Homo sapiens: one gene and its partner. The protein of the gene in region 1 interacts with the protein of each later gene in a pairwise test. Each region holds a gene or a part of one and is shown on either strand. Other genes may lie near its edges. The genes, in order: AATF and MNS1.

Region 1 (15,781 bases):
CAAGTGATCTGCCCATCTTGGCCTCCCAAAGTGCTAGGGTTACAGGCGTGAGCCACTGTGCCCAGCCACTCCATTCTCTCTTAAACCCATTCCAGTCAAGCCTGTAAGCCTACTAGCCTGCCAAACTCCATCAAGGTCAAGGATGCCCACCATGTTGCTAGATAAGTCAGTTCTCAATCCCCATCTTACTTCCATTAGCAGCAGTCTCACCTTTCATATCAGAGAATAAATAAATCAAGACAGAGATATAAAGAAATTATCTAAAGTTACAGAAGTAAAACAAATAAAATGAGACTGAATGTCAGTCAAAGGAGTACTGTCTTCCTGAAGGCTTCTGTATATTTATCTTACTCCTGTGTGATTTTAAAAAAACAATTTAAGAACAGGTTTTAAGACATAAACAATAGAGTATCATCTTATGCAGCAGTTGGGTTCTAAAGTCTAAGCATAAAGCAAAAAATCAAGTTTTGACAAAACCACTTTGAAAATCCCTTATATTGTACATAATGTGTGGCATTGTGCTATCTTTCAATAAGTTCAACACAGCCAGTCTTTCCCCTCTAACATTAGCCCATACAGCACTTTGTCAATTAAACACAGATGATTCAATTTAGGGACCGTCCTGTACAAAGACTGCATGTTGTAACTTTAAGCACTAGATTGATATTCTGTTGATCGATGCTCACTAAAGAGGTACCCAAGAACAAAAAATAACCAAGGCAATAAAAGAATCCACCTGCCATCTCATGCATACCCTACGCTCACTGAATAAAGTGGCAGGCAGAATTATTGGCACTATATAAACAGTTTCTCTCTCCTTGGTTTTTGTTTTGTTTTGTTTTGTTTGAGACAGAGTTTTGCTCTTGTCAGGCTGGAGTGCAATGGTGCGATCTTGGCTCACTGCAATCTCCACCTCCCGGGTTCAAGCGATTCTCCTGCCTCAGCCTCCCGAGTAGCTGGGATTACAAGCATCCGCCACCACTCCCGGCTCATTTTTTGTATTTTTAATAGAGAGGGGATTTCACCATGTTGAACTGGTCTCGAACACCTGACCTCAGGTGATTCGCCTGCCTCGGCCTCCCAAAGTACTGGGATTACAGGCATGAGCCACAGTGCCCAGCCTCTCCCTCTTTTTCTTTTGGCCAGGCACATATAGTTACGTTTGAGTTAATTAAATGTACATATAAAGAGGTTCCATTGTGCAATGATATGTACAACTTCACCATGAATATAGTGACACAGTGATCCTACTATGGAGCTACTAGCTACTCCAAGTCAGGGCTACTTTCTTATCTAACTCATTACTATTAAAAATTATTTTTCTGAGCTACTCTGGGCCACTCTGCCTATGGGATAGCCCTGCTCTGTCTATGGAGCAGTCAAAAAAAAAAAAAAATTGTTTCTGATGCTGAAGACAACTCTCACTCCTAAGAAACCCAACCCCAAAACAGTGAAATGCATTTTCTAGCTAGATTGGTATCAGTAGTTTTTAAGCTGCCCTTAGCTCACACAGGTCTGTGACCCATTTAGGGCTTATACTCTTAGGGTAGGTAGAATCAGTGCATAAGAATCTGACACTCCCCTCCTCATTCCACCACTTGGTGACTTTGGAAAAGTTCTTGCTCTGTGATCCAGCTTTACTCTCTACATTATATAAATGCCTAATTAACTAAGTTGGACAAAGTAGTAGCTCAAAAGGGACAAAAAGTCTTCCTACACAGAACTCACTCTCTAATAAATAGATAAAACACTGCATATGTTATTTCAGTGCTAACAGGTATTATGTAAATACCAAACAGAAACTTATCAAGAAATGATTGCCTTCATTTCCCACCTACAGTTTAGCAAAAAGAAGATCAATAATACCTAGTGGAGGCAGGAGTGTAGGAAAACAACTGTTACAGATGAGAATTTAAATTGTTACAATTCTTCCAGGGGCTAGTTAGGCAATATATTCCAAAAGCCTTTTTAAAAAAACAATGTACAAGGCCCAGCACCGTGGCTCACGCCTGTAATCCCAGCACTTTGGGAGGCTGAGACAGGCAGATTACCTGAGGTCAGGAGTTCAAAACCAGCCTGGCCAACACAGTGAAACCCAGTCTCTACCAAAAACACAAAAATTAGCCAGGCACGGTGGTGGATGCCTGTAATCCCAGCTACTCAGGAGGCTGAGGCAGGAGAATTGCTTAAACCCGGCGGGGCAGAGGTTGCAGTGAGCCGAGATCCTGCCATTGCACTCCAGCCTGGGCGACAAGAGTGAAAACTCTGTCTCCAAAAAAAAAAAAAATCAATGTACAAGTCCTTTGTCCCAGCAACTACATTTCCAGGGAATATAGATCTGGGCAATATGATACAGTATCCACTAGCTACACGTGGCTACTAAGCACTCAAAATGTGTCTAGTCCCAATTGAGATGAACTGTGATTATAGAATATACTCTGGATTTCAAAGACTTAACATGAAAAAAGGAATGTAAAATATCTCATTAAGATTTTTATATTGATCACATATTGAAATTATAATATCTTTGATATATTGGGTTCAATATGTCTAAAATTAATTTTAACTGTTTCTTTTTTAAAATGTGGTTATTAAAAAATTTTAAATTACATGTGGCTTGCATTATATTTCTACTGGACAGTGCTATTTTTAGACAAACTGCACAAATATGTATGTACAAGGATGTTTATTAAAGCATGTTTTATACAAGTGAATAGCTAGAATAAACCTAAGCACCCATCAATACAGATTGGTTAACTAAATTGCAGTAAATCTATAAAAAGGAATACTTCAACTCCTAAAAATGCTGATGTACATCTAAATATACTGACATGAAATATTAAGTAGGAAAAATAAGCTTGAAAATAGTACATACTTATATGATTCCATTTTCTGTTTTAAAAAGTGTGTGGTGTGTGTGTGTGTGCACGCGAAAAGGTCTGGAAGGATATTCATCAAAATGACAACTATGGTTATCTCTGGGCAGTAGGATTACAGCTAATCCTTATTTTCTTCTTTATGCTTCTATGTATTTTCCGATCTTTGAAATAAGCATGACATACTTTTATAATTAGAACACTGAAGCTATTTTAAAAAATGATAGCCATCAGCTGAAGCAAAAAGATCAATCTTACTCACATCATCTTGGCTAGATGAAGTCTGCAGCAATAAGGGTCCTTAAGCCTACACAATGTTACAATTAGAGGGGGTTGCAAGTGCCTTTATCCCAAGCAATACTTAAACCCATCCCAAGTAATTAAAAATATTTCAAGGTTCTACAGAACATTGTGAGAACTTTGCCAAGAACCCATAAAGTGTTAACTGAGAGAACTCCGAAATAATCATTTATGGATTTGTCACCTAAGGCAACTAAGTAATTTAAAAGGGGGGGATTTCAGTGATAAAATTGGTTGCCTGTGGGACAGGGTACTGGGCGGCAGGGGTACAGGATTATCACTGTATATATAGTCTTTAGTATTTTTGAATTTTGAACTATGTGAATGTACTGCCTACTTAAAAATAAGTAAAACTTTAAAAACAAAACATTATCAAGACTCCATGATTTCCCACAGCTTACGCAAAATTTAAAACATTATTATTTAAGGTATCTATTATTGCTGAGGACAAATTACCATTAAAAATTTTAGTCTAGCCGGGTGCAGTGGCTCATGCCTGTAATCCCAGCACTTTGGGAGGCCGAGGCGGGTGGATCTTGAGGTCAGGAGTTCAAGACCGGCCTGGCCAATATGGTGAAACCTCGTCTCTACTACAAATACAAAAATTAGCTGGGCGTGGTGCTGCATGCCTGTACTCCCTGCTACTCCGGAGGCTGAGGCAGGAGAATCACTTAAACCCGGGAGGCAGAGGTTGCAGTGAGCCAAGGTCGCACCACTGCACTCCAGCCTCGGCGACAGAGCAAGACTCCATCTCGGGGGGGGAAAAAAATTTTAGTCTAGTCAAGTCAAAATAATTGGGGCTTTTGGGCAAGGACCACAAAGATATGAGAGTGTAAGTATGAAATGGGAAGATAACAGGGTGCAAACAAAATATAATTTATTAATAGTGAAATCTGTTTTCATACTCTTAGGAAAGTAAAAAATCTTAATACTTTCTCTGTATTTATATTACATTATGCTGTGTTCTTGGATGTTTTGCTTACGGGAAATATCAAAATGACAACCATTGTTTCTATTAAAGGTCTTTAATGATATTGCATTTTAGACCTGTAATGAAACATGGTGCTCACTGCAGTTTGTAATGCATCTCATTAAATACATTAATAACATGCATTGCACTAAAAGGTCAACTTATTATGACTGAAGTTTAGCTTTCCTTTAATCACTTCATTTAAAGCTATAGAGCAAACTCTGAAAAAGACAGTAGAGTACCCGTTACAGAAATACTCTCTAGGACCTTTTGCCTTAAAGAAAAGAAAAAAAACAAAAAAGACATTTACTTACAATTTTCCCACCCATCCAAATCAGTCATGTTTTTTGTTTGTTGGTTTGTTTGTTTTCTTGAGACAGACTCTCGCTCTGTCACCCAGGCTGGAGTGCAATGGCATGATCTCTGCTCACTGTAACCTCTGCCTCCTGGGTTCAAGCAATTCTCCCACCTCAGCCTCCTGAGTAGATGGGATTACAGGAACCCACCATCATGCCTGGCTAATTTTTGTACTTTTGTAGAGACGGTGTTTCATTATGTTGGCCAGGCTGGTCTTGAACTCCGGACCTCAGGTGATCTGCCCACCTTGGCCTCCCAAAGTGCTGGGATTACAGGCATGAGCCACCACACCCAGTCTGTATGTTTGTTTTTTTTGAGACGGAGTTTTGCTCGTTGCCCAGGCTGGAGTGCAGTGGCGCAATCTCGCCTCACTGCGACCTCCACCTCCCGAGTTTAAGAGATTTTCCTGTTTGGCCTCCTGAATAGCTGGAATTACAGGTGCCCGCCACCACACCCAGCTAATTTTTTGTATTTTCAGTAGAGACGGGGTTTCATAATGTTGGTCAGGTTGGCCTCGAACTCCTGACCTCAGGTGATCCACCTGTCTTGGCCTCCCAAAGTGCTAGGATTACAGGCATGAGCCACCACACCAGGCCAGTTATGTTTATTAAGAAATTACTGTTAATGTTTTTACATGAGATTATGGTATAATTTTTTAAAATCCTTATCTTTTGAACATACATGCTGAAAATTTTACTGATGAGAGAATGTGTATTATTTGCTTCAAAATAATCCAGAAGGTGAGCAGAGTTGGTACAACTACAGATGAAATAAGATTGACCATGAATTGATTATTGCTTAAGCTGGTGAAGGCATGTGGGGGTTCACTGTGCTATTTCTCTACTTTTATATAAGTTTGATATATCCCATAATGAAAAGTTTTAAATAACTCATGGTGAGATTTCCTTAAGTAACTTCCCTTCTTCCTTACATATCATTGCCACCAACATAAAAGATGTATTTCCTAATACAGTAGAAATTCTAAAAGAGAGAAGGCCAGGCACAGTGGCTCATACCTGTAAGCCCAGCACTTTGAGAGGCCAAGGTGGGTGGATCACAAGATCAGGAGTTTAGGACCAGCCTGGCCAACATGGTGAAACCCCATCTCTACTAAAAAAAATTACAAAAATTAGCCGGGTGTGGTGGCATGCGCCTGTAGTCCCAGCTACCCAGGAGGCAGAGACAGGAGAATCGCTTGAACCTGGGAGGCAGAAGTTGCAGTGAGTTGAGATCGCACCACTGCACTCCAGCCTGGGTGACAGAGAGAGACTCCATCTCAAAAAAAAAAGAAAAAAAAGAAAGAGAGAAAAAGCAAACCCTTTTAGAGAAATGGTTTTGTGCACAGAAAATCCCTTAATTTTGTTAAGATTACTCCATGACTTACCACTTATGCAGCCACTAAAATATCAGACGATGTCTTTGAAATCACTTCCACAGTTCAAGTTTAAATTACCAACATGTAACACCAAGGTGACTGGGGACTAAGTTTACGTGTTTGGGGTGGTGTGTGGAGAGGAAGGAGATATTCATTTAGTTTCTGAAAAGTAGAGTTTAGGGTGCTGAAGCTACAAAGGCATGGTACTCAGGAGTTTACTGGAGCTAGAATACAGCTGGAAGTCTGTTATTTTAGAGGCAATAGTTAGGGTTATCAGAGTAAGTGACAGTGCCAAGGAGAGACTATATTGAGAAAACGCAACCTGAGGACAGGATTCTAAACGGAATGAAATTTACATTGAGAGGATACAAAAGGAACCAGAGAAGAGATCAGAAAGGTAGGAGAACCCAAACAGCACAGGTAGTGTCACCAAGCCAAAGAAAAGTATTTCAAGGAAAAGTTAAACGCTTCAAGGAGGTAGTAGCTGGGTATAGCAATAAGGAAATCTGTAGCCATCTTTCCATAGCGTCGTAAGAGGCCAACACTGCATTGTAAGTATTAGTAAACTATAACACTTTCCAGAACAATTAGTTAATTTAAATTATATAAAGAATCCAAATACTAATAAAAAAGTAAAAAACACTGAAGACTAGTGAGGCTCAGTTACACTGATAACTATTGAGTGATTGCTCACATGGTCGAACACTGCCAAATGCCTCTTTGAGCAGAAAAAGATAATATTAGTACCTAACATTCATGGTGAGATGTGTGCCAGACACTGTGCTAATGCTTTCTATTGATTATGTCCTTTAATCCTCACAACCATATTATCCCCATTTTACTGTGAAGTTAAGTAACTTGCCCAAGGTCACATGGCTAATCCATTGCTGAGATGAAATCTAAACCAAGCCGGTCTGACTTTAACTACTCTGTAAGACCAAGCAAATTGAAAAGAGATTTAATTAAAGACAGTAAGTTCCAGTGGTTGTTCTGGGGTTGGTACAAATTCAGCCTATGTTCCACACCAGCTATACAGCACAGTAATAAATTGGTCATCCAGAGTAATGTGCTCAAGAATTTTCTCTCTCTCTCTCTTTTTTTTTTCGGGGGGGACAGTTTCGCTCTTGTCGCTCAGGCTAGAGTGCACTAGCACGATCTCAGCTCACTACAACCTTTGCTCCCGGGTTCAAGTGATTCTCCTGCCTCAACCTCCCAAGTAGCTGGGACTACAAGTGTGTACCACCATACCTGGCTAATATTTTTATTTTTATTAAAGATGGGATTTCACCACGTTGGCTAGGCTGGTCTCAAACTCTTGACCTAAAGTGATCCGCCTGCCTCAGCCTCCCAAAGTGCTGGGATTATAAGCGGGAGCCACCGTGCCCGGCCAAGAACTTTTTTTTTTTTTTTGAGACGGAGTTTCACTCTTGTTGCCCAGGCTGGAGTGCAATGGCACAATCTTGGCTCGCTGCAGCCTCCGCCTCACAGGTTCAAGCAATTCTCCTGCCTCAGCCTCCCGAGTAGCTGAGATTACAGGCACCTGCCACCACACTTGGCTAATTTTTGTATTTTCAGTAGAGACGGGGTTTCACCACATTGGCCAGGCTGGGCTCAAACTTCTGACCTCAGGTGATCAGCCCACCTCGGCCTCCCAAAGTGCTGGCATTACAGGCGTGAGCCACTGCACCCGGCCAAGAATTTTTTTCTTAAAGTCTGTTTATCAAGACAGGGGAGTATACAACATATTATGTCATATTGCCACAAGAAAAATTAGCTACTCTTCAAATGCACAGCTCATTACTTGAAAACTCCCTACCCTCCCACCTTAGAATATGTGATACCAAACTTCCTTTCTTCTCCCTCCTCCACCACAACCCACCCTGTCAGATTAATAGATGCTGTCAGATTAATTGAGGTTCATCAATGAGGTAAAGGCAATTGGTTAAGTACAAAAAAGAGTAAAAAGATCAGAACAAAATAAAAGTTAAATAACACTGCAGTGATTAAAGACACTAAATGAGTTGAGTATGGTGGCTCACACCTGTAATCCCAGCATTTTGGGGAGGCTGACACGGAAGGATCATTTGAAACCAGGAGTTTTGAGACCAGCCTGGTCAACATAGTGAGACCCTATTTCCACAAAAAAAGAAAAAATTAGTCGGGCATGGTGGCTCATGCCTGTAGTACCAGCTACTCAGGAGGCTGAGGCGGGAAGATCACTTGAACCCAAGAGTTCGAAGCTGCAACGAGCTATGATCACGCTACTGCACTCCAGCCTGGGCAACAGAGCAAGACCCTGTCTCATAACAAAAAGAAATTAAATCGTATCCAAGAATATGTGTCCATTATACTGGACACTGACTAACCCCTAAAATATCTATATTTAAATATGAATTTTTTAAAATGAAAAAGGCTCAAGCAAAAAGAATAATGAGTAACAAAATGAAAACAGGCCTTATCGTGAAACATTTAAAACATTTAATCTAGAGCAGTCTAGGTCTCATTCCAAAGGCATACCAGGAATTAGGGTACTAGGACACTAAAAATAGCAGAGAAGTGCTCCAAAAATCTCAAAAAACTTGAAAACCATCAATCTGTCATCTATTTGAGAGAGAAAGGAGGCAAAGACAGGGGCGGGGATATAAATGGCCCACCTCACCCACACAGGCCACGTAAGGCTCCTGGGAAGGACTGCCCAGACTTCCCACAGGGGAAGAAGCAGACTTTAAGTGTGGCGGGACACAAAACCCAAAAACTGGACTCTAGGAAGCCATTCCTAATTACATCAGGTATTCACCTACAAGAAACGTTCACTGAACTCCCTACCTGGGAAATCCTACACATTGATCTTGAATGTCTTAAGGCGGTTCTACCTACAGGCAGATGCCAAATTAGATATCCTCCTCAGGTCCCTTCCAACTCTAACTCCATGATACTAAAAAAATAAGTTTTAAAGAGCAAATGAAAACATGAAGTCTCAGCATGCAAGTAAGACATATTGATCTCAGCTGAGCGCAGAGGCTCATGCCTGTAATCCCAACACTTTGGGAGGCCAAGGCCTCCCAAATATATATATAGAGAGATAGATACATAATCTATACATATATATCTATATCTATGGATATAGATATCTCTTTCATGAGGACTCTGAATATCTAGATATAGATATATACAGATCCCAAACACAGCACACTCACCCTAAATCTCCCTCTGCCCCAGTCCTTCAGTGCCACTGGGCACACAGGCAAGCAGCACACAGGAGGCAGTGTGGTGCAGAGGGAAGATTCCTACATCATAAGGTAGAAAAGTTGGAGCCTCATCTCCGCCATACACAAATAAGCTCTGCAACTTTGGGCAAGTCATTCTGGGTCTTAATTCTCTCATGTGTAAAATGAAGACATTGGGAACCAAATAGTCTCTCAATTCCTTTTCCTCTTCTAGAATTCTTTATAGCTCAGTAATTCTCCTCTAAAATGTGTTTCTCCCTCGGCATATCATCTTTCCTCACTCTATGTCACTCAAAGAAAGATATAAATAAGATCATCTTAGCACATTGTTCTAAAAACCTCTCAAACATAGGAAGCATCTTTTAAACACATGATACAACCAAGTTTAATGAGCTGAATTAGACATTCTTTTTCTCCCTTTCTACATCAGTGGGTTTTCAACCAGTGTCCCCTGAGCTTTAAAGAATTAACTCAGGGCCAGGCTCAGTAGGTCACATCTGTAATCCTAGCACTTTGGGAAGCAAAGGTGGGAGGATTGCTTGAGGCCAGGAGTTTGAGACCAGCCTGGACAACACAGTGAGACCCTGTCTCTACAAAATATCCCTCTCTACAGGCAGGGTGGTGCACGCTTGTGGTCCCTGCTACTCGGAAGGCTAAGGTGGGAGGATCACTGAGGTGGGAGGATTGCTTGAGCCCAGGAGGACGAGGCTGCAGTAACCTGTGATCGCGCCACTGTACTTGAGACTCAGCAACAGAGCGAGACTCTGTCTCAAAAAAAAAAAAAAAAAAAAGCAACTTGGAAAGCCAAGGGGGATGGGGAGGGGAGAGCAAGGGCAGATGAGAAGAAAGCACAATAAACATGGCTCAAGCTCCCAGTCCACTTCAATCAAAGCTGTCTTCATTTGACAAAGTGGTTCTAAGTATTCCAACAGGACATAAGTATTCTTACTATTTTTCAGGGCACTGGAAAATTCTGGGCCACCTTTGTCCTTGAACAATGGGAAAACATCTGGTTGAGGAAGCTGGTTGGTGGTCAACAGAGCTTTTTGTAGTTTGATCCTTCCTTCCAAGAGCTGGTCCCACAGTGCTGAAAAGAAGAAAAGAGAATCCCATTCCTCAATAATAAAATATTCTGGGGGTGAGGTGGCAGGGGTGGGGAAGAACAGGAAACCACACCAGTCTCTAAGCACCACAGCTTTAGCAGTTTAATGCCATGGAAACAAATATTCTCTATTAGAGAAAATAAATTCAGTATCCATGAAGCAAGTATTTGCTACAGCAGAGTGGGAATGCTAAAACCCAAGGAGAGGAGAAAACACTCTTCTCTTCAATCTTCCCCAGTTGCAGGAAGTACTAGAGCAGAACCAGCTAAGCAGATCAGTGCAGAAATGGCTGGCTAAGCATACAGGAATAGGGCTTTAGGCTTCTGGGTAAGTGGGGCATGTCACAAACTAATTGAAAGGACACAGGAGATAGAGAATAGCCAAAAACAAACAAATGAAAAGTAGACCAAATGCAGATACTTTGAAAAACAGGCAATCAGCAAAACCATGTACAAACCTATCTGGTTCTTCACGGCTCTTCCTTTCTCCACTTCCTCAGAAACTTTGACACTAGAGAAGGTCATCACCACACCATCATCCTCACTGTTTCTATCTCCAGCCCTGTCTTCCTCACTCTCGCCTTGGGAGTCTTCCGCGTCATCCCCTTCTTCCATGCCACTCTCTTCGTCTTCCTCCTCCTCACTGCTCCCAAGGTCATCCATTCCCTTGGTAAATTTCTCAAAGTCACTGATACTCTGGACACTGAAGCCCGGTGTTTTTGCAGAGTGGCTTCTGCTCTTCTTGCTCTCCCTGTGATCACCACACTCCTGTTCCTCAGCAGCACCCAGGTCGTCCTCATCATATTCCTCCAGACCCAGTCCCTCTGAATCTTCATCTCCAGACCCTTCCTCATCAGATATTTCCTCATCTACAAAGAAGAGAGGGAAGAAAGAGAAAAATGGGTATTACCTGGAGAAAATACCAAGCCATAGACTTCATTTCAACTTAAGCACTGTGGCATCAGGGGGAAAATCTCTTACTGCACTCAATTCAACAATATATTTATTACACATCTACAATCTCCAAAATGCTAAGGGAGAAGCAAAGATGAATAGAACACGGGTCCTACCCTAACAAAAGGAGCTAGTGGGAAAGACAGACTCACAACATTACAACTCAAGGAAGCATCAGAAGTGCTTTGACAAAATTTCAATAACCCAGAAGAGTGAGAAATTTTAACTGTGGGGCAAGTGAATTTAAGCTAATCTCTAAGGAAGAGCTAGCATTTGCTCTGGCCCTTGAAGAACAGTAAGATTTCAACTGGTGTTAGAGAATTACCAGTTTTCCCAAACCTGATCTGAAAAAATGTACAATCTATCACATCCGTCTGCCCTATTTACTAAATACTTATTAAGCACTCATTATGAGCCAGGGGCTAAGGAAAGGCAAATAGAATTTAATACTTGCTGGGAGGAGTTCATGGTCTGGTGGGAGTGGTAGATATGCATGCCAATAATTATATTACAAGGTCATTAGTACACAGTGTATGGAGATGGAACCACCTAACTCTCCTGGAAAGGTGGGGGATGGTATCATGTGGAGAAGGAGACATTATAATTTTACTTATGAAGCATAAGGCAACAGCTCATAGATAATGAAGGGAAAACGCACTGGAGTGCAGGATGCACAAGGAAGTGATGGGAGATGAGACTAATCAGGAAAGGTCTCGTCTTTCATGAGGACTCTGAACTTGATCCTATAGTAGACAGAGTGCTAGTTAAGGCTCTTTGTTTGACTTATGCTTAGAGTATCATCTGATATGTAGAGGTTTTTACAGTTTATCCAATCTGTTCCATGGTAGAACATAAAAGCCCCATGTGTTTCAAGTATGATTCTAAGATAGAGGGACCAGTTTCCAAAAACTTTCTTCAATAAAATAAAGATTTTAGGAAAGCGTGACAGGTCTTCAGCGCTTCTTTAAAAAGGTATATATAAACTTAAGACACAAAGCTGCCAAAAATATAAATACAAAAACTAAGTGCCAAAACAGTAAACAGAAATTATTATTTAAATTCTTTGAATGTACGCCATTTCTCAGATTAAGAAACATTCATACAGAGTTTACTAGAGTGTACATCTTGGAGTCAGACAGCCTACATTTGAATCATGTTTCTTCCACTTACTAACTATATGACCTTGAGCAAACTTATGTAACCAATTTGCCCCTCGATTTCCTTATCTGTAAAATGGGGCTAAGTAGTAATAACTTCCTGCGCAATTGGGAGGATTAAATTAGGTGACACATGTAGTGATAATGGTGATAATTTTTTATAAAAATCTGTCTAATTCCAGGTAATTTTATAATTTTTTTTTTGAGGACTTACTGTGTCCCAGGCTCTTAGAACTTAAATTATAGAGCTAAACTCAGTGCCTGACGCATGGTAAGAACTCAATAAATATTATCATATTTGTCTCATGATTGGTCCCTTTATCAGTCTCTAGGCAAAGAATATGAAATGAGCTTATCAGGAGCTCCCAGAACTACATCAAGGACTAAATCATAGATATCATAACCTAAATGATAGTTCCTTTTATATTATCTGTGGATTCTCAACATGACACCCCTGACCTTTCTAAAGGAAAACAAATGACATTCTCCCAATAATCACCATATCTAGCCCCTTCTTCCACTCTGAGAAATTTACAATTCTTTAAAACTATAAGCGCACAGACTCCTAACTCTTTTGCAGGGAAGAGAAGGATTATGTGATTTTTTAGAATGGCAAAAAATGAGTTTCACAAATAACTAATATCACACAGTGCTTCAATGCAAGTCCTGGAAAACCAAAGGTCAGGGGTCACAATTCAAGGATAACATGTTCATCAGACACAGTGGTTTTTCAGCTCATAACCCTCTCCAGTAGCCAAAATGCACTGCCTTCTCTGTCACTCCACTGTAGGGTGAGCCATTAGTCCGAACATAAGGAGTATAGCAACTTAATCACTCTGGGCTTTAGATTCCTTATGAAGTGAAATGAAGTAACCTCTAAGACCCTTTCTAATACCAAATCAATGGTCTCTCCTAAGATAACAGATAGGGGTGCCTGACCAACATGGACAAACCCCGTCTCTACTAAAAATACAAAATTAGCCGGGCGTGGTGGTGCATGCCTGTAATCCCAGCTACTCGGGAGGCTGAGGCAGGAGCCTCGCTTGAACTCCAGAGGTGGAGGTTGCGGTGAGCCGAGATGGCGCCATCACACTCCAGCCTGGGCAACAAGAGCCAAACTCTGTCTCAAAAAAAAGATCCGCAGACTACTCTTGCAAAGATCATGGGGGATGACCGGAGGATTTTAACCCTGAAAAAATTAGGGAAGAGAAGAGTTCCATTCAAAAATGTCTACTCACCAGACGATCCTGGCAGAGTCTGCTCCCAATGGTCTTCATTCCATGCTTTTCTAGAGGTGGTTTTGCCGCAATACCTTTTGTCCGTGTCCAAGAGGGAGGCTGATGCCAGTTTTCTAATGCTACCCACTACTAGGAAATCACCTTCCCCATCTTCCCCTTCATCAAACCTGTCAATCACCCTGGCAGCAGTGGCTGTCGGGGGAGAGGGAAAAGTAAACAGAATCTCCAGGTTAGCAGAAACTTTAACGGGAACCCTGGTCGACCCATTTATCTCATAGTTGAACGTCCTTTACGAAATCCCCACCAACTTCCAGGAATAGGAAATTCACTCTCTCCCAAAGTAGAACACTGTCTTACTGCTGTTTCTAAACAGAAAGTTGACTCCTGGCATCTACTAGTGGGATCTATTTCTATGACTTGGATCCTATCAAACTAGTTGAATTCCTCTTCAATGTGTGACAGTCGCTCCAATATCTTAAATCAGTCATCACGTTCTCCCCTCACTCTGTCCCATTCTTTGGGGAGTTTTCTTTGCTTATTCTGGCTAAACAGTCCCGAGTTTCTTCAACTGATCTTCCTAAGATACGGTTCAGCACTCGCATTTATCCCTCCTTATTATCCCTTTCTCACACTTCCGACTCAAGTCTAAAGCGGGATTACTCCCAGCTAGACTCTGAACATCAGCTTACAGAACAGGAGTCTCAGTCGTCAGCCACTGAACAAGTGTCTTGAGACTTCAAGAGACTTAAACAGCACCAGAAAATCCTTCCATCAGTCTCCAACTTAGTTTTGAAGGGCAACCTGAATTAAAAACATGCGACTTTCTTCTCCTCCTTTCTAACGCAATACCAGAAAGGGCATCCTCAAAGCTAACTTCCAACTTGCTAGCAGACTCTCTGGCTCCCTCCAACAGGCCTGGAGCAAGTAAACCTGAAGACCAGCTCCTCTCGGCCTGAGCCCTCGATCTGTTCCGCCCATCCAGCCGAGCACCAAGTTTCGAGTGCGTGTGAAAAGAAGCCGAAGCCCTCCTCCCGAGGCCGGGACCACCCTCGCGGGAGGCGACGTTCCTCTGCGCCAAGCGAAGGAGCGCAGGCCCGGCGGCCTCGCGCACGCCCCTCCCACGCCGCCCCCTTGCCCCACAGGGCCTGGCCCACCGCTCCGCACGTGGCCTGCCCCAGTCCGGCCTCACCTTCCTCGGGGTCCGCTTCAGGGTCCGCCTCGCTTGGTCGCGGGTTCAACAACTGTTCCAGTTGCAGCGCCAGGGGCTGCGGCCCCGCCATCGTCACCAGCTCCCGGTCCACTCCGCTTCGCGCACGTAAATGTGCGGCCCAACCCCCGGCCCCGAAGCTCCTTCCCTGCCGGATCCTCTCGCCTTGATCCGATTCCCCGACTCCGCCAGAGACCGCGCGGAGGCCACCCCACAGCTCTGGACCGGCCACTTCCGGGAGGCGCGCGGGAGGGGGCGGGGCCTGCGCGTCACTGCGGGCGTTGCTAGCATGAAGGCGGAAGCGCGCAGAAGGTTGAAGGGATTGGAGCCGTATGGGCGCGTGTGCGCGTGCGCGTGCGAGTGCGCGGGAAGGGGCGGTGCGGAAGCGCGCCAAGGCACGTGACCGCTTCTGTCGCTGAGATGCGATTGCGATGCGCGCGGCCAGTGTCCCCTTGTACAAAATATGCCTCGAGATTTGTGCGAGATTCGCTTAGGAATAAAGCATAGCGTAGCCGTGGCCCACGGTGGCTGATTTGGGAAGGAGGAGGGAGTAGGGCTTAAGCTGCTCGAATCGCGGGTGCGCACTCGGGCACGCAGAGACTGGGACCCAAAGCAGGTTTGTCATTTCGCAATTTATAGTAGTCTGAGGCCGGGCACACGCCTCCCGCCCTTCAGCGGCCAGGATTTGGGAATCCTATGTCAGGGATATGCACGTGTAAGTGTGTGGCGGACTGCTGGCGTCTTTCTTAATGGGAATACTTAGGAATCGCTGTGGCTAAAGATAGTTTCAGTAGCGTCTCTAAGTACCCTTGCCTGAGCAAGGGAAAGGGGGTGGGGTGTGGATTACTCCACTGCATACCCCTCGGTATTGATTATCTTTGCTGTTCAGAGATGAGGGCATGCTCAGGCAGCTTAAGCAGGTGCACAAATGCAGAAAAATACAGGTCTACCGTTAGAGGGACAGACTCAAAATATAAAGACTTAATAGTATAAATGTAATTGCACCCCGCACACGGAA
Region 2 (15,781 bases), on another chromosome or scaffold:
TAACTGCTGAGGATGATTCACTGTGGCTAAAATGTGAAAACAATATGGATTAGGCCGGGTGCGGTGGCTCATGCCTGTAATCCCAGCACTTTGGGAGGCCGAGGTGAGTGGATCGCAGGGTCAGGAGATCGAGACCATCCTGGCTAACACGGTGAAACCGCGTCTCTACTAAAAATACAAAAAATTAGCCGGGCCTGGTGGCACACGCCTGTAGTCCCAGCTACTTGGGAGGCTGAGGCAGGATAATCGCTTGAACCTGGGAGGCGGAGCTTGCAGTGAGCCAAGATCGCGCCACTGCACTCCAGCCTGGGCGACAGAGAGAGACTCTGTCTCAAAAAAAAAAAAAAGAAAAAAAGAAAACAAAACAATATGGATTATACTGAATACCCATTTTCTTTCTGGGAGTCTGGAATATTGGTACGTTCTAAGTAGAGGGTGCCTAAGTTACCACCCCCAATAAGAACCCAGAGCACTGAGTTCTGATGAGCTCTAATGTTGTCTGCCAGGCATTTCACACGTCACAACTCATTGCTCGGGGAATTAAGCGTGTCCTGTGTGTTTCCACAGGTAGAGGCCTTTTGCACCTAGTTTTCTCTGAATTTCACCCATGTGCCTTTTTCCTTTGCCAATTTTGCTGTGTTTCGTTTCTTTATAGTAAGTCATAGCCGTGAGTATAACTATATGCTGAGTCCTGTATCCTCCTAGTGAATCATCTAACCTGATGGTGGTCTTGGGAACCCCCAACACAGAAGCAAACAGGAGAGAAGAGAGAACATAGGACAGGGAAGACAAGTAGAAAGAAGATATAAGCTTGTAAATGGAAACCCAATTATATTAGTAGTTATAGTAAACATATTTGAACCATTTGCCAAAATTGATGAAATGTTGTATCAGAATAAAAATATCAACAGATTTTCAGAGGAATCAATTTATACATAGTATTTTCTCTGTCCATAGTGGAATTAAACTAGACGTAAGTAATAAAAAAAAATCTAGGCAATCTTTATATGCTTAGGTATTTAAAAATGTGCTTCACATTACCCTTTGGTCAAAAAGTACAGATGCTCCTTGATGTACGATGGGTTCATGTCCCAATAAACTACATTTTCAATTTACGACAGGTTTATTGGGATGCATCCCATCATGAATTGAGGAACCTACTGTGAATGCATATGGTTTTCTCACCATTGTAAAGTCAAACCATCATTAATCAGAGACTGTCTATAATCAAAATTGAAATTAGAAAGTATTTTTAACTGAATAATAATGAAAATACCACATACTAAAAGTTGCAGGATTGGACTGATATTAGCAAAATAGCAGAGTAGGCAGCTCCCAGCTCCTGTCTCTCCTCCCAGCCCATCCCCCGACTACAAACATCAGAAAACAAGCAGAAACTCTCAGAACCAATTTTATAAGAAATTTGGGTAGCATTCAAAGGTTTATTGCAATCAAGCAAATGCTGAAACAAGAAAAAGCCTAAAAATGGTAGTAAAGTTCTGTGGTATCTTCACTTGCCCTTTCCTCATTCCCTCCTAGCTCAGAGGCAGGTAGCCCTTGTTCCCAATGCAGGACCCTGGTCCCTGGTTCAGGAGGAGCAGAGCAGATCTTATTCACAAATTGTTGGGTATATCTGTTCTAACCTACCTTGGGACTACGTGAAAAACTAACACAAGGCACTTATCTGTTTTACCTCACTCAGAACTCATTTAGGCCAGAAGAACAAATTGTATCTCTGATAAGGATTTAATATCTGAAATATATAAAGAACTCTTACAATTCAATAATTTTAAAAACCCAGTTCAAAAATGAACAAAGAACTTAGACGTTTCTCTAAAGAAGATGTTGAGTGAATGATAAGTACATGAAAATATACTCAACATTATTTGTCATTAGGGAAATGCAAATCAAAACCATAAGAAGAAACTGTTTCACATCTAATAGGCAATTTTAATAAAAGTAGTGGAAAATAATAGGTATTGCCAAGAAAGTGGGAAAATTGGAACCCTCAGAAATTGCTGGTAGAAATGTAAAATGATGCAGGTGCTATGGGAAAAAGTTAAACAAAGGATTACCATATGAGCCAGCAATTCCACTCCTAGGCATAAATATACAAAAAATTCAATAGTGAGACTTAAATGGATACTTGTATACAAACTTTTGGTGCAGCATTATTTCCAATAACCAAAATGTTGAAACAACCTGAATGTCCATCAGATGGGTGGATAAATGAAGTGTAGTATATATACATTATACAATATCCTTCAGTTATAAAAAAAAAATGAAGCACTGATACATGCTAAAATATTAGTGAACCTTGAAAACATTATGTTAAGTAAGCGAGACACAAAAGGACAATTCCTTGTATAATTCCACTTTTGTGAACTATCTAGAATAGGCAAATAGACAAAATGCAGATTAGGAATTCCAGGGGTTAGGGAGAGGGAAGAATGGGGAGTTATCGTTTAAGAGGTGCAGCATTTCTCTTTGGGGGGAATGAAAAAGTTTTGGAAATAGTGTTGATGGTTGCAGAACACTGTGAATGTAATTAACACCACTGAGTTGTACATTTAAAAATGGTTAGGATGGCAAATTTTTGTTACATATATTTTCACATGATAAAAAATGTTATAGGACTGAAAAAAAAGAAACCAACTTGTGGCATATAGTTAAGGCTGTTCCTCAAGGGTAGGTCTTAATCTGAAATAACTGTATTAGAAAGGAAAACTCCATCTGGAATTACTAGAAAACAAACTGCAAATTCTCTTCTGGAATGATTACAAAAAGAAGGTAGGAGGAAGGCAATAATAAAGATAAGAGCAGAAATGAGTAAGTTAGAATATAAACATAAAGTAGAACAAATAAAGCCAAGAACTGTGCCATAAAAAGGTGAATAAAATTGACGACCCCTTGGTAGGGATGACAGAGTAAAAGAGAATGCACAAATAACCAGTTTTTGGAATGGATAATGTGATATCACTGTAGAGCATACAAACACTTAATGGACCATAGCAGGATATTGCAAACAATTTTATGAAAATAAATTTGAAAATGTAAATGAAATAGATAAATTCTTAGCACATTTTACCAAACTGATTGGCACAAGAAGAAATAGCTAAATGTTCCTATAACTTTTAAAGATATTGCATCTGTAATTTAACCTTGTCCACAAATAAACCTACAGGGCTAGGTGAATTTTACCAAACATTCAGGACAAAGTAACACCAATCTTATGTAGTTCTGTAAAACAGAAAAAGAGGAAGCCCTTCCCAATTTGTTTTAATCAGATCATTACCTGAATACGATATGAGAAACCTGTAGACTAATCTCTCTCATGAATTTAGCTCCTGTAATCTGAAATATTAGTCAATACGAAATCCAGTGCTGTATAAGAAAGATAAATCATCCTGACCAAATTTAATTTATTCCAGGAATGCAAAGGTGGTTTAACATTTTAAAAATCAGTAAATGTAATTCATCCTATTAACAATTATATGATTAGAAAAAGCCCATTGATATGAATCATCACTCTATGATTTAATAAAAAGAGTGTAGCAAGCTAGGGATAAAAGGGAATTTACAGCAACATTATCCTTAATAGCAAAATGTTAAACACTTCCCCTCTGACACTGAGAAGAAGACAGGGATGCCTGCTCTGACAGCTTTTAGTCATCTTTGTATTATACATACTAATCAGTGCAATAGGGCAAGAAAAAGCAAAGACAGGTGCTAGGATTGGCATTAAAGGAATAAAAATTTAATTATTCACAGATGATATGATTGTATGTGTAGAACATCCAAAAGCATCTACAAATAGCCGGGTGTGGTGGCTCATGCCTCTAATCCCAGCACTTTGCAAGGCCAAGGCAGGTGGATCACCTGAGGTCAGGAGTTTGAAACCAGCCTAGCCAACATGGTGTAACTCCATCTGTACTCAAAATACAAAAAATTAACCGGGCATGGTGGCACACACCTGTAGTCCCAGCTACCTGGGAGGCTGAGACAGGAGAATCGCGTGAACCTGGGTGGCGGAGCTTGCAGTGAGCTGAGATCACACCACTGCACTCCAGCCTGAATGACAGAGCGAGACTCCGTCTCCAAAAAAAAAAAAAAAAAAAGAATCTAAAAATAAGAATTAGCAAATCATTCTACCAAAAAAAGCATATGCATTTATATGTTTATTGCTGTGCTATTCATAATAGCAAAGACATGGAATTAATCCAGGTGCCCACCAGTGGGAAATTGGGTAAAGAAAATGTGGTACATATATACCACGGAATACTCTACAGACATAAAAACAATGAAATTATGTCCTTTGCAGAAACATGGATGGAGCTGGAGGCCGTTATCCTAAGCAAATTAACGCAGTAACAGAAAACCAAATACTGCATATTCTCACTTATAGGTGGGAGCTAAACATTGAGTACACATAGACATATATGGGAACAACAGACACTGTGAACTATGAGAGGGTGGAGGAGGAGTGGGTTAAAAAACAACCCATTTGATTCTGTGCTCACTGCCTGGGTGACAGGAGCTGTACTCCAAACCTCAGTATCACACAATATTCCCATGTAACAAATCTGCACATGTACCCCCAGTATCTAAAAGTTGAAATAAAAACTTAAAACCACTTTAGTAGACAGTTTGGCAGCTTCTTAAAACGCTGAACGTGCATCTACTGTATGACCTGATCATTCCACCTTAGGTATTTATCCAAGAGAAATGAAAGCCTGTGACCACAAATAACTGGTACTCAAATTTCCATAGCAGCTTTATTTGCAATATCCACATACCTGAAACAACTCAAATGTCTATCAGCATGTGAATAGATAAGCAATGCGAGTGGATATCTATAATCTTAAAATAATATCCTGCAATAAAAAGGAGTAAGCAATTACTATATGCAATAAATGGATGTATTTGAAAATATTGAGTGAAAGAAGCCAGAGAAAAATGGTACCTGCACTATGATTCCATTTATATGAATTCTAGAAAATTTATACTGCCTAAGGTGACAGCAAATTAGCTTGCCTCAGGATAAGTGCGAACATAAAGGGGTAGAAGAGAGGTACCACAGGTTTATAAGGAAGTGATTGGGACGTGTTCATGATCTTGATTGTGGTGATGGTTTCACAGGTGCATACATATGTAAAAACTTATCAAACTGTATCCTTTAAACATGTTCAGTTTATTGAATATTGTAGATCAGTAAAACTGAAAACTAAAAAATATATTCAGTGATATTGTTGGGTATAAATTTAGTATATAAACATTAATTGTATTTCTGTAAATTATCAACAATTAGAAAGTGAGATTTGAAAAATAATCTACAGAAGGATATGAAAAATACCTAATGAAAAGTATAAAACTACCAAAATAAAACACAGATATAAACATCGATAGACTTTTAAAAAACCAAATAATTAGAAGGATATACTATGTTTATTGAAGACTCAGTAATGTAAAGATATTAGTACTTTCCAAATTGATTTATGAATTCAGTACTATCACAGCCAGTTTTGTTTATTGTGAAGTCTGACAAGCTGATTCTAAAATGTATATGGAAATGAAAGTATCAAGAATGGCTAAGACAGTCTCTAAGAAGATGACCAAAATTGGAGACTTATCCATGATATGTAGACGTATTATAATTTACAGCAGTTGAGATAGTGTGGTATTGACACAGGATAAGCAAACAGATGAATGTAATAGAACAGAGCAGTACTTTTCAACCAGAAAATGTAAGCCCTAATGCCCTAAAGGCATCCATTAAATATAATGAATTATTTCTCCTATGGATCTAAAATAATACCCGCTGTATTCCCTCTTTGAGTAAATTAAAAATACAGTTACTCAGTTTTCTGTGAGGTTTTCATTCTCTTATGGTCCTAACATTTAAATTTGTTTTTGTTTTTTTAAACAGCATTGAGCTTAGAGAATTGGAGAAGAAATTAAAAGCAGCTTACATGAATAAAGAAAGGGCAGCTCAGATTGCTGAAAAGGATGCCATTAAATATGAACAAATGGTAATCATGTTTCTGGTCATTATGTTTTTAGCTTCATTTAGAAAATAAAAATTAGACTTGTTTCTTAAAAAATTGTCATATTGTATAAAGAATTTACACTGCTAGATTTCTTAAATATTTGTAAATTTTCAGATCCTTAAGATGTAGAAAATCCTGCGTGATTTCATTTTTAATATTAGAGCCTTTCAGAAACACATTGCTGCTTAGAATGACCAGCTATATTCAGTAACTCCCAGCATTCTTTATAGTCTCTAACTGATTATTCACTGACAAAGTAGTACAGTACAAATTGTTACCATGATAAGTGTATTTTAGAATGTTATGAAATTTTTAATTATTTAAATGTTTTTAAGAGTAAACTACTTGATAATTTTATGTAGGAAACTTTCCAGTTTTATAAAAGCCATCTCTTTTTCTCATGTTTCTCTCTGCTTTTATCCCCTTTTCTAACTCCTGATATGGTACCAAGTTGAAGATAAGAGTTACTCTTGGGCAAAGGAATCTCAGGCATACTCACTAGGAGTGCTTTGCTGTATGAATATATAATAGGGTTTACTGAATTAACAGTTAATTAAAAGGGTGCACATCATCCCTTGAGCTCTCATTATCAAACAGAAGGGCCAATTATATATGAATGTTTATATACACATACATATCTATTGTGTATGTCCACATAAACATATGTACACACACACACACTCTTATGGGGTGATATCAAAATACTTAACCAGTGCAGTGCAATATGGGTATCAATTAAGAATAGATACCATAAATGACACATATATGTGTGTGTTGCGTGTGTACAATTGTGTTAGTATAGAAAATGTCTAGCGGGTACACAGCATGCTGTTAACAGGAATACCTTTAGGTGTGGCAGGTGATAAGAAAAGGTGGAGAGACTTCATTTGCTAAGCCATATAGCGCTGTCCTTTGAAAAAGAAAGTAGCACAAACAATGTCCTGTTTGTCCAGTGGTTTGCAGTTTTAATTATCCTGATAGTTGAAGTTATTCAAGGTAGTTGTAGACGTTTTAATCTGACTCCTACGAGAATTGCTGCTATTTTCCAAATAAAAATTGATCCACAAAATGAAAGTCGAATACTACTAGGACTTGACTAGGTGTCATGCAAGTACTAGTTTTGGCTTTTTCTCTGAGCCTTAGTTTTCTTATCTGTAAAATGAGAACATTGTTTTCGGTAAGTGTGTGGTAATCTACACATAAATGTTATTGTCATCTCATTTTTTAATAAAGAATTTAGTATAGCATGTACAAAGAAGATAATCAGAAACATTTTTGGTCAAGTCATATTATCAGAGTATATGTTAAAGGCTTCAGTGACGTCAGGAATGACATTCAGTATTCATATTTTAATCTGTTTACTCTTTATGTTTGATGCTGCTGACCATTCCATCATTCGGGATGTGATCATAAAAGTAAAGCGTAGTTTAAAAAATTGCCTCAGTATATTTCATTTAAAACTTATTTTATTAAATGATTTGAAAAATGCTCAAAAGAAATAAGGGGTTTAACCCATCCAAGAAGAAAGATTGTCTCTTGACAATGGGAATGGTCTTGAGTGAATTAAAAGCTGTAGAAAATAGGCACAGTAGCATCTGTGATTCTTTTCAGATAAAGGGCCTTTAATAAATCAGAAAGGGGAAACGTCAAGGGCCAATGGCAGGAAAGAAAGTTTAGGCTAGGAGAAACTTAAGAGCTGCTCAAAGCCATTTAATAGCAGACCTGTAAGAAAGAGGCAGTACCATCTTTAAATAGCAGCTGATAAACAATGAAGCTAAAAACGATGAAAATTGCCTAGCTCAGTTTATAAATAGAATAATAAGATAATGACTGCTTTAGCAGCTAAATAGTTATTAAGAAACTACTTACAATTGTATTCATTGTTTTTTGAATGTGGAGTTATTAATAATCCTTATCAGGTATTGTCCTGAGAGAGCTACTTGAAGGGATAGGAAAGCTGCTTTAGGGTCTGACTTATTGTTCACACCCTTCAGGTAATAATAACTTACTTTTGCTTTTTAACCTAGACAGATGAAAAAATTTATTTTATGTAAAAGACTTTATAATATTCAATAACATTGGTGTAAAATATACTATCGTACTATGTTCAAATTTGAAAACGGAAAGATCAATTTTGTTTTAATAACAGAAACGTGATGCTGAAATAGCCAAAACCATGATGGAAGAACACAAGAGAATAATAAAGGAAGAGAATGCTGCAGAAGACAAACGAAACAAAGCGAAAGCACAGTACTATCTTGACTTAGAGAAACAACTTGAAGAACAAGAAAAAAAAAAGCAGGAAGCTTATGAGCAGCTGCTAAAAGAGAAACTCATGATTGATGAAATTGTTAGGAAGATCTATGAAGAAGATCAGTTGTAAGTTTATCCTAACTTTCTTACATGTCTAAATGTTTACTTTAGATATATCACAGGTTTGTTGTGAGGAACTGAAGCACCTAGAACAGTGCCTAATACATAGTAAGTGCTCAATAAATACTAGCTATGAAAACATAAATTGGGACCAACTCCTTCTCATCTCCGTTAGCATAATTAATAAATGAATTATCTGATGATTAATAAATGCTGAAGTGATTGAATGACCTAAACCTTTGTTTTTCTTATATATGCCCATATCATATGTCAGAGGACAGGTATTCTGATAAATTTTTTTGGTAGACAGCTTAAGTATAGAGTGCTGCAAAGCTAATGTTAACAGATTGTAGCCTTTATGAAATAAGATGCATAAAACTTCATTAATAGGTTAGAGGAGACTATCACAGTATTCTACCCAAAGAAAAATTCATACCTGACATTATATTTAGCACACAGTAAGCATTCAAAATGTTTGTTGCATGCACGAATGAAAAAACTATAGTGTTTTTCTGTACATTATTATGAACAAAATGAAATTACTTTTTTATATTTTATTGTTTACTATAAATCTGTACTTGTTATTGCTTTTCAGGGAAAAACAACAAAAGTTAGAAAAAATGAATGCAATGCGAAGGTATATAGAAGAGTTTCAGAAAGAGCAGGCTCTCTGGAGAAAAAAGAAACGTGAGGAGATGGAAGAAGAAAACAGAAAAATCATAGAGTTTGCTAACATGCAGCAGCAAAGAGAAGAAGATCGGATGGCAAAAGTTCAAGAAAATGAGGAGAAAAGGCTACAGCTTCAGAATGCGGTATTAAAATAACCACTTCTTTAACACTAGTAAAATTCTGAAATATTAGTTACAGAATTTGGATCCTATAAATATTTATGTTTTTTAAAAAATTTAATAGTTGACACAGAAATTAGAAGAAATGCTGCGGCAACGTGAAGATTTGGAACAAGTGCGACAAGAATTATACCAGGAAGAACAAGCTGAAATATATAAGAGCAAGCTAAAAGTAAGTTTCAGAAATGGAAAGAATGATTAATGTAGAGAAGAATATAATTTTGAGATGAAGCAGAAAAGAGATAGTACATTTAAATCCAACCATACTGGTAATTACATTATATGTAAATGGTATACTACAGTTAAAAGACAGAAATTTTCAAGCTGGCTAAAAAGATAGACTCAGGCATCAATTTATAAACTTACCATAAAAAGCATGATGCAACTATGTTGTCTGTAATCACAATTTAAAAATGAAGATACATACTTTAAAAGCAAAAGGATGGTGAAAGATACGTAACATACAGACACTAGTCAAAAGTAGGTTGGAGTTGCTACGTTAATATGAGACAAAGTCAACTTCAGGACAAGCAATTCATGATAATACAGTAAATTCATCTAGAAGATGTCATAGTCCTAAAGGCGTGTGAACCTAAATAATAAAGCTTCACAATACATGAAGCAAAACTGACAAAAACTGAAAGGAGAAAGAGGCAAATCCACAATCAGAGTTCAAGATTTTTTTTTTTTTCTTTTTCTCTTTCCAACTTTTACTTTAGGTTCAGGAGGTACATGTGCTGGTTTGTTACAGGGGTAAATTTGTGGGTCATGGGGATTTGGTGTAACATTATTTTGTCACCCAAGTAATGAGCATAGTACTCGATAGGTAGTTTATTGATCCTCACCCTCCTCCTATGTCTACCCTCAAGTAGGCCCCAGTGTCTGTTTTCCTTCTTTGTGTCCACGTGTACTCAATATTTAGCTGTTACTTGTATGTGAAGACATGTAGTATTTGGTTTTCTATCCCTGCATTAATTAGCATAGGCTAATGGCCTCCAGCTCCATCCATGTTGACGCAAAGGATATGATTTTGTTCTTTTTTATGGCTGTGTAGTATTCCGTGGTGTACATGTACCACATTTTATTTATCCAGTCCACCATTGATGGATATCTAGGTGGATTCCATATCTTTGCCATTGTGAATAGTGCTGCTATAAATACACACATGCATGTGTCATTATGGTAAAATGATTTATATTCCTTTGGGTATATACCCAGCAATCCCATTGGGTATAAACCCAGCAATCAAATGGTAATTCTGTTTTCATTTTTTGGGGAGTCGCCACAGTGCTTTTCACAGTGGTTGAACTAGTTTACATTCCCACCAACAGTGTATAAGCATTCCTTTTTCTCCACAACCTTGTCAGCATCCATTCTTTTGTGACTTTAATAGCCATTCTGACTGATGTGAGATAGTATCTCATTGTGGTTTTGGTTTGCATTTCTCTAATGATTAGTGATATTGAGCACTTTTTCATGTGCTTGTTGGCTACATATATATCATTTTTTGAGAGGTATCTGTTCATGTACTTAGCCTATTTTTTCTTTTTATTTATTTATTTTATTTTATTATTATTTTTTGAGATGGGAGTCTCGCTCTGTCGCCCAGGTTGGAGTGCAGTGGCGTGATCTCGGCTCACTGCAAGCTATGCCTCCCGGGTTCACGCCATTCTCCTGCCTCAGCCTCCCAAGTAGCTGGGACTACAGGCACCCGCCACCATGCCCGGCTAATTTTTTTCTTTTGTATTTTTAGTAGAGATGGGGTTTCACCGTGTTAGCCAGGATGGTCTCGATCTCCTGACCTCATGATCCACCTGCCTTGGCCTCCCAAAGTGCTGGGATTAGAGGTGTGAGCCACCGTGCCTGGCCAGTCTATTTTTTAAATAGGGTTGTTAATTTGTTTACGTTCCTTAGATATTATGGATATTAGACCTTTGTCAGATGCATAGTTTGCAAATATTTTCTCCCATTCTGTAGGTTGTCTGTTTATTCTGTTGATAACTTCATTTCCTGTGAAGAAACTCTTTAGTTTAACTAGGTCCCACTTGTCAATTTTTGTTTTTGTTACAATTGCTTTTTGAGTCTTCATCATGAAATCTTTGCCAGGTCCTATGTCCAGAATGGTATTTCAATGCACAGTTCTCATTAATCTATAGACTAGGTAGTCAGAACCGCAGGATATCGTATTGAAAGCAATATCAATAAACTTGACCTGACATTTAGAGAATACTCCACCCAACAACAGCAGAACACAAATTCCATTCAAACATGGAACCTTCACCGAGATAGATCATATTCTAGGACATAAAGGAAGTCTCAATAAATTTTCAAGGTTTTAAATAATACCAGATATGTTTTCTGACTACAGTGGAATTAAATTAAAAATCAGTAATGAAAATATACCTGCAGACTCCTTAAATATATTATAATTAAACAATATATTTCTAAATAAGCAATGAGAAAAGGGGAATAAATAATATTGGAAATTAGAAAAATATTTCAAACTAAATGATTCAAAAAACAGCATTCCAAAATATGTGACGTGCAGTTAATGCAGTGCTTAGAGGAAAGTTTATATCTTTAAATGCATATATTAGAAAAAAGAATGGTTAAAAATTAATGAGCCTGTGTCTACCCAAACCCATACACAAATGTTTATGCAGCATTATTCACAATAGTCTAAAAGTAGAAATAACCCAAAAGTAGAAATAACCCAAATGTCTAATGGATAAACAAAATATAGTATATCCATGTAATAAAATGTTATTCAGCTATTAAAAGAATGACAGACTGATCATGCTAAAACATGGATAAACCTTTAATTATAAATTTAAAAGTATGTGCCTCAGGAATGTTATATAAATGATATCAAACAATATGTAACTTTTTCAAGTTGGCTTTTTTTTATTCAGCATAATTTCCTGGAAATTCATCCAAGTTGCTTGTATTGATCATTTGTTCCCTTTTTTTGCTGAGTAACATTCCATTGGCATGTATATACCATTTTATTTGACCATTTGCCCATTAAAGGGCATTTGGAATGCTTCCAATATTTAGCTCTGATGAGTAAATCTGATGTAAACATTCAGGTAAAGGTTTTTGTATAAACATCAATTTTCATTTCTCTGCAATAAATGCTCAAGATTGTATTAGCTGGGTTTTGTGGTAACTGCATGTTAGCTGTGTAACAGACTGCCAAAGTGATTTCCAGAACAGCTGTAGCATTTAACATTCCCATCAGAAATATATGAGTTACGCAGTCTGTCTGCATTCTCACCAGCATTTGGTGTTAACACAGTTTATTTTTTAATTTTTTTCTCCTCTGTCCTCAGAAGCTCAACAATTTTTTATTTTAGCCACTTTTAAATATCCATGTAGTGATACCTTGTAGTTTTATTTTGCATTTTCCTGATGACTAATGATGCTGAACATCTTTTCATGTGCTTATTTGCTGTCCTCTTTGGTGTAAGATCCTCTTTGATGAAATAGTTCTTCATGTCTTTTGCTGATTCTCTAATTGGGTTGTTTGTTCATTTATTGTTGGGTTTTGAGAGTTCTTCATATATTCTAGATACTAGTCCTTTGTCAGGTGGGTGGTTAGCAAATAGTTTCTTCTAGTCTGTAGCTTTATCTTCTCATCCTTTTAACATGATCTTAGAGCACGATTTTTCTTAGAGCAAATGTTCTCCATTTCTATGAAGTTCAGTTTATCAGTTTTTCTTTTTATGGATCATGCTTTCTGTGTCAACTCTAGAAACTCTTCGCCTAGTTATTGAAGAATTTCTCCTTTTTTTTTTCCTAAAGGTTTGTGTGTGTGTGTGTGTTTTGTTTTTTTGGGTTTTTTTTTTTTATGCTTTTCCATTTTACATTTCAATCTGTGATCTGTTTTGAGTTAATTTTTGGTACAAACGATGAGACTTAAATACAGTTTTTGCCATTGGATTTAGTTCAGTTGTTCCACACCATTTGTTGAAATGGCTGTTTCTCCAACATTGAATTGCTTTTGCACCTTTCTTAAAACACAGTTGGCATGTTTGTATGGGTCTATTCCTGTGGTCTCTATTTTGTTCTGTTGGTCTATGTATCCATCCCTCCACCAATACTACACAGTTTTGAATACTGCAGCTATATGGCAAGTCTTAAAATTTTTTTTTTAGCTATTCTAGTTCCTTTGCCTTTCCATATGAATTTTTGAAGAATCTTGTCTCTATAAATATTTTTTGCTGGGATTTTGATAGGTATTGAATTAAATTTGAATATCAGTTTGGGGAGAATTGATAAATTCACTATATTAAGTTCATGAACACAATTTGGCTCTCCCTTTATTTAGATCTTTGAATTTTTTCATCAGGATTCTCTAGTTTCAGCATACAAATCCTGTACGTGTTTTGTTACATCTAAGTGTTTCATTTTTTGAGCAATCGTAAATGGAATGTTAGCTTTTATTTTGGTGTCCGTGTACTCGTTGCTAGTGAATTGATATTTTTGTGTTTATCTTGTATCTCACAACCTTGCTGAATTCACTTGTTAGCTGTAGGATTTTTTTTCCCTACATAGTCAGGCATGTCTTCTGCCCAGAGCTACAGGCTGTTTCTTCCTTTCTGATCTGTATACTTTTTACTTCCTTTCCTTGCCTTACATGCTGGCTAAAATTTCCAGCACCACTGGCTAGTGCTATGTTGAAGAAGAGTGATGAGAGTAGACATCACCTTTCCTGTTCTTGTCTGTTGGCTGCATAAATGTCTTCTTTTGAGAAGTGTCTATTCATATCCTTCGCCCACTTTTTGATGGGGTTGTTTGATTTTTTCTTGTAAATTTGAGTTCTTTTTAGATTCTGGATATTACCCCTTGGTCAGATGGGTAGATTGCAAAAATTTTCTCCCATTCTGTAGGTTGGCTGTTCACTCTGATGGTAGTTTCTTTTGCTGTGCGGAAGCTCTTTAGTTTAATTAGATCCCATTTGTCAATTTTGGCTTTTGTTGCCATTGCTTTTGGTGTTTTAGACATGAAGTCCTTGCCCATGCCTATGTCCTGAATGGTATTGCCTAGGTTTTCTTCTAGGGTTTTTATGGTTTTAGGTCTAACATGTAAGTCTTTAATCCATCCTGAATTAATTTTTGTATAAGGTGTAAGGAAGGGATCCAGTTTCAGCTTTCTACCTATGGCTAGCCAGTTTTTCCAGCACCATTTATTAAACAGGGACTCCTTTCCCTATTGCTTGTTTTTGTCAGGTTTGTAACAAACCTGTCTTTTTTGTAACAAAAAAAAAGAGCAGATGGTTGTAGATGTGTGGTACTATTTCTGAGGGCTCTGTTCTGTTCCATTGGTCTATATCTCTGTTTTGGTAGCAGTACCATGCTGTTTTGGTTACTGTAGCCTTGTAGTATAGTTTGAATTCAGGTAGCATGATGCCTCCAGCTTTGTTCTTTTGGCTTAGGATTGTCTTGGCAATGTGGCCCCTTTTTTGGTTCCATATGAATTTTAAAGTAGTTTTTTCCAATTCTGTGAAGAAAGTCATTGGTAGCTTGATGTGGATGGCATTGAATCTGTAAATTACCTTGGGCAGTATGGCCATTTTCACGATATTGATTCTTCCTATCCATGAGCATGGAATGTTCTTCCATTTGTTTGTGTCGTCTTTTATTTCGTTGAGCAGTGGTTTGCAGTTCTCCTTGAAGAGGTCCTTCACATCCCTTGTAAGTTGGATTCCTAGGTATTTTATTCTCTTTGAAGCAATTGTGAATCGAGTTCACTCATGATTTGGCTCTCTGTCTGTCTGTTATTGGTGTATAAGAATGCTTGTGATTTTTGTACATTGATTTTGTATCCTGAGACTTTGCTGAAGTTGCTTATCAGCTTAAGGAGATTTGGGGCTGAGACAATGGGGTTTTCTAAATATACAATCATGTCATCTGCAAACAAGGACAATTTGACTTCCTCTTTTCCTAATTGAATACCCTTTCTTTCTTTCTCCTGCCTGACTGCCCTGGCCAGAACTTCCAACACTATGTTGAATAGGAGTGGTGAGAGAGGGCATCCCTGTCTTGTGCCAGTTTTCAAAGGGAATGCTTCCAGTTTTTGCCCATTCAGTATGATATTGGCTGTGGGTTTGTCATAAATAGCTCTTATTATTTTGAGATATGTCCCATCAACACCTAATTTATTGAGAGTTTTTAGCAAGAAGGGCTGTTGAATTTTGTCAAGGGCCTTTTTTGCATCTATTGAGATAATCATGTGTTTTTTGTCATTGGTTCTGTTTATATGCTGGATTACATTTATTGATTTGTGTATGTTGAAATAGCCTTGCCTTCCAGGGATGAAGCCCACTTGATCATGGTGGATAAGCTTTTTGATGTGCTGCTGGATTTGGTTTGCCAGTATTTTATTGCGGAGTTTTGCATCAATGTTCATCAGGGATATTGGTCTTAAATTCTCTTTTTTTTGTGGTGTCTCTGTCAGGATGACAGACGACCAAAGTATCAGGATGCTGCTGGCCTCATAAAATGAGTTAGG

Evidence for each region.
Region 2: the proteins of AATF (region 1) and MNS1 interact in binary tests that used the Homo sapiens proteins (3 or more experiments, as listed by UniProt).

The regions. Positions count from the first base shown.
Region 1 is NC_000017.11:36,948,181-36,963,961, reverse strand, and holds the start of AATF (protein AATF), read right to left. Parts: upstream 15,009-15,781; 5' UTR 14,837-15,008; coding exon 14,746-14,836; intron 13,749-14,745; coding exon 13,557-13,748; intron 11,077-13,556; coding exon 10,666-11,076; intron 10,193-10,665; coding exon 10,055-10,192; intron 1-10,054. UniProt on the Homo sapiens protein: Part of the small subunit (SSU) processome, first precursor of the small eukaryotic ribosomal subunit.
Region 2 is NC_000015.10:56,437,089-56,452,869, reverse strand, and holds part of MNS1 (meiosis-specific nuclear structural protein 1), read left to right. Parts: intron 1-5,926; coding exon 5,927-6,029; intron 6,030-6,986; exon of another isoform or gene 6,987-7,199; intron 7,200-8,196; coding exon 8,197-8,426; intron 8,427-9,015; coding exon 9,016-9,232; intron 9,233-9,332; coding exon 9,333-9,440; intron 9,441-15,781. UniProt on the Homo sapiens protein: Microtubule inner protein (MIP) part of the dynein-decorated doublet microtubules (DMTs) in cilia axoneme, which is required for motile cilia beating.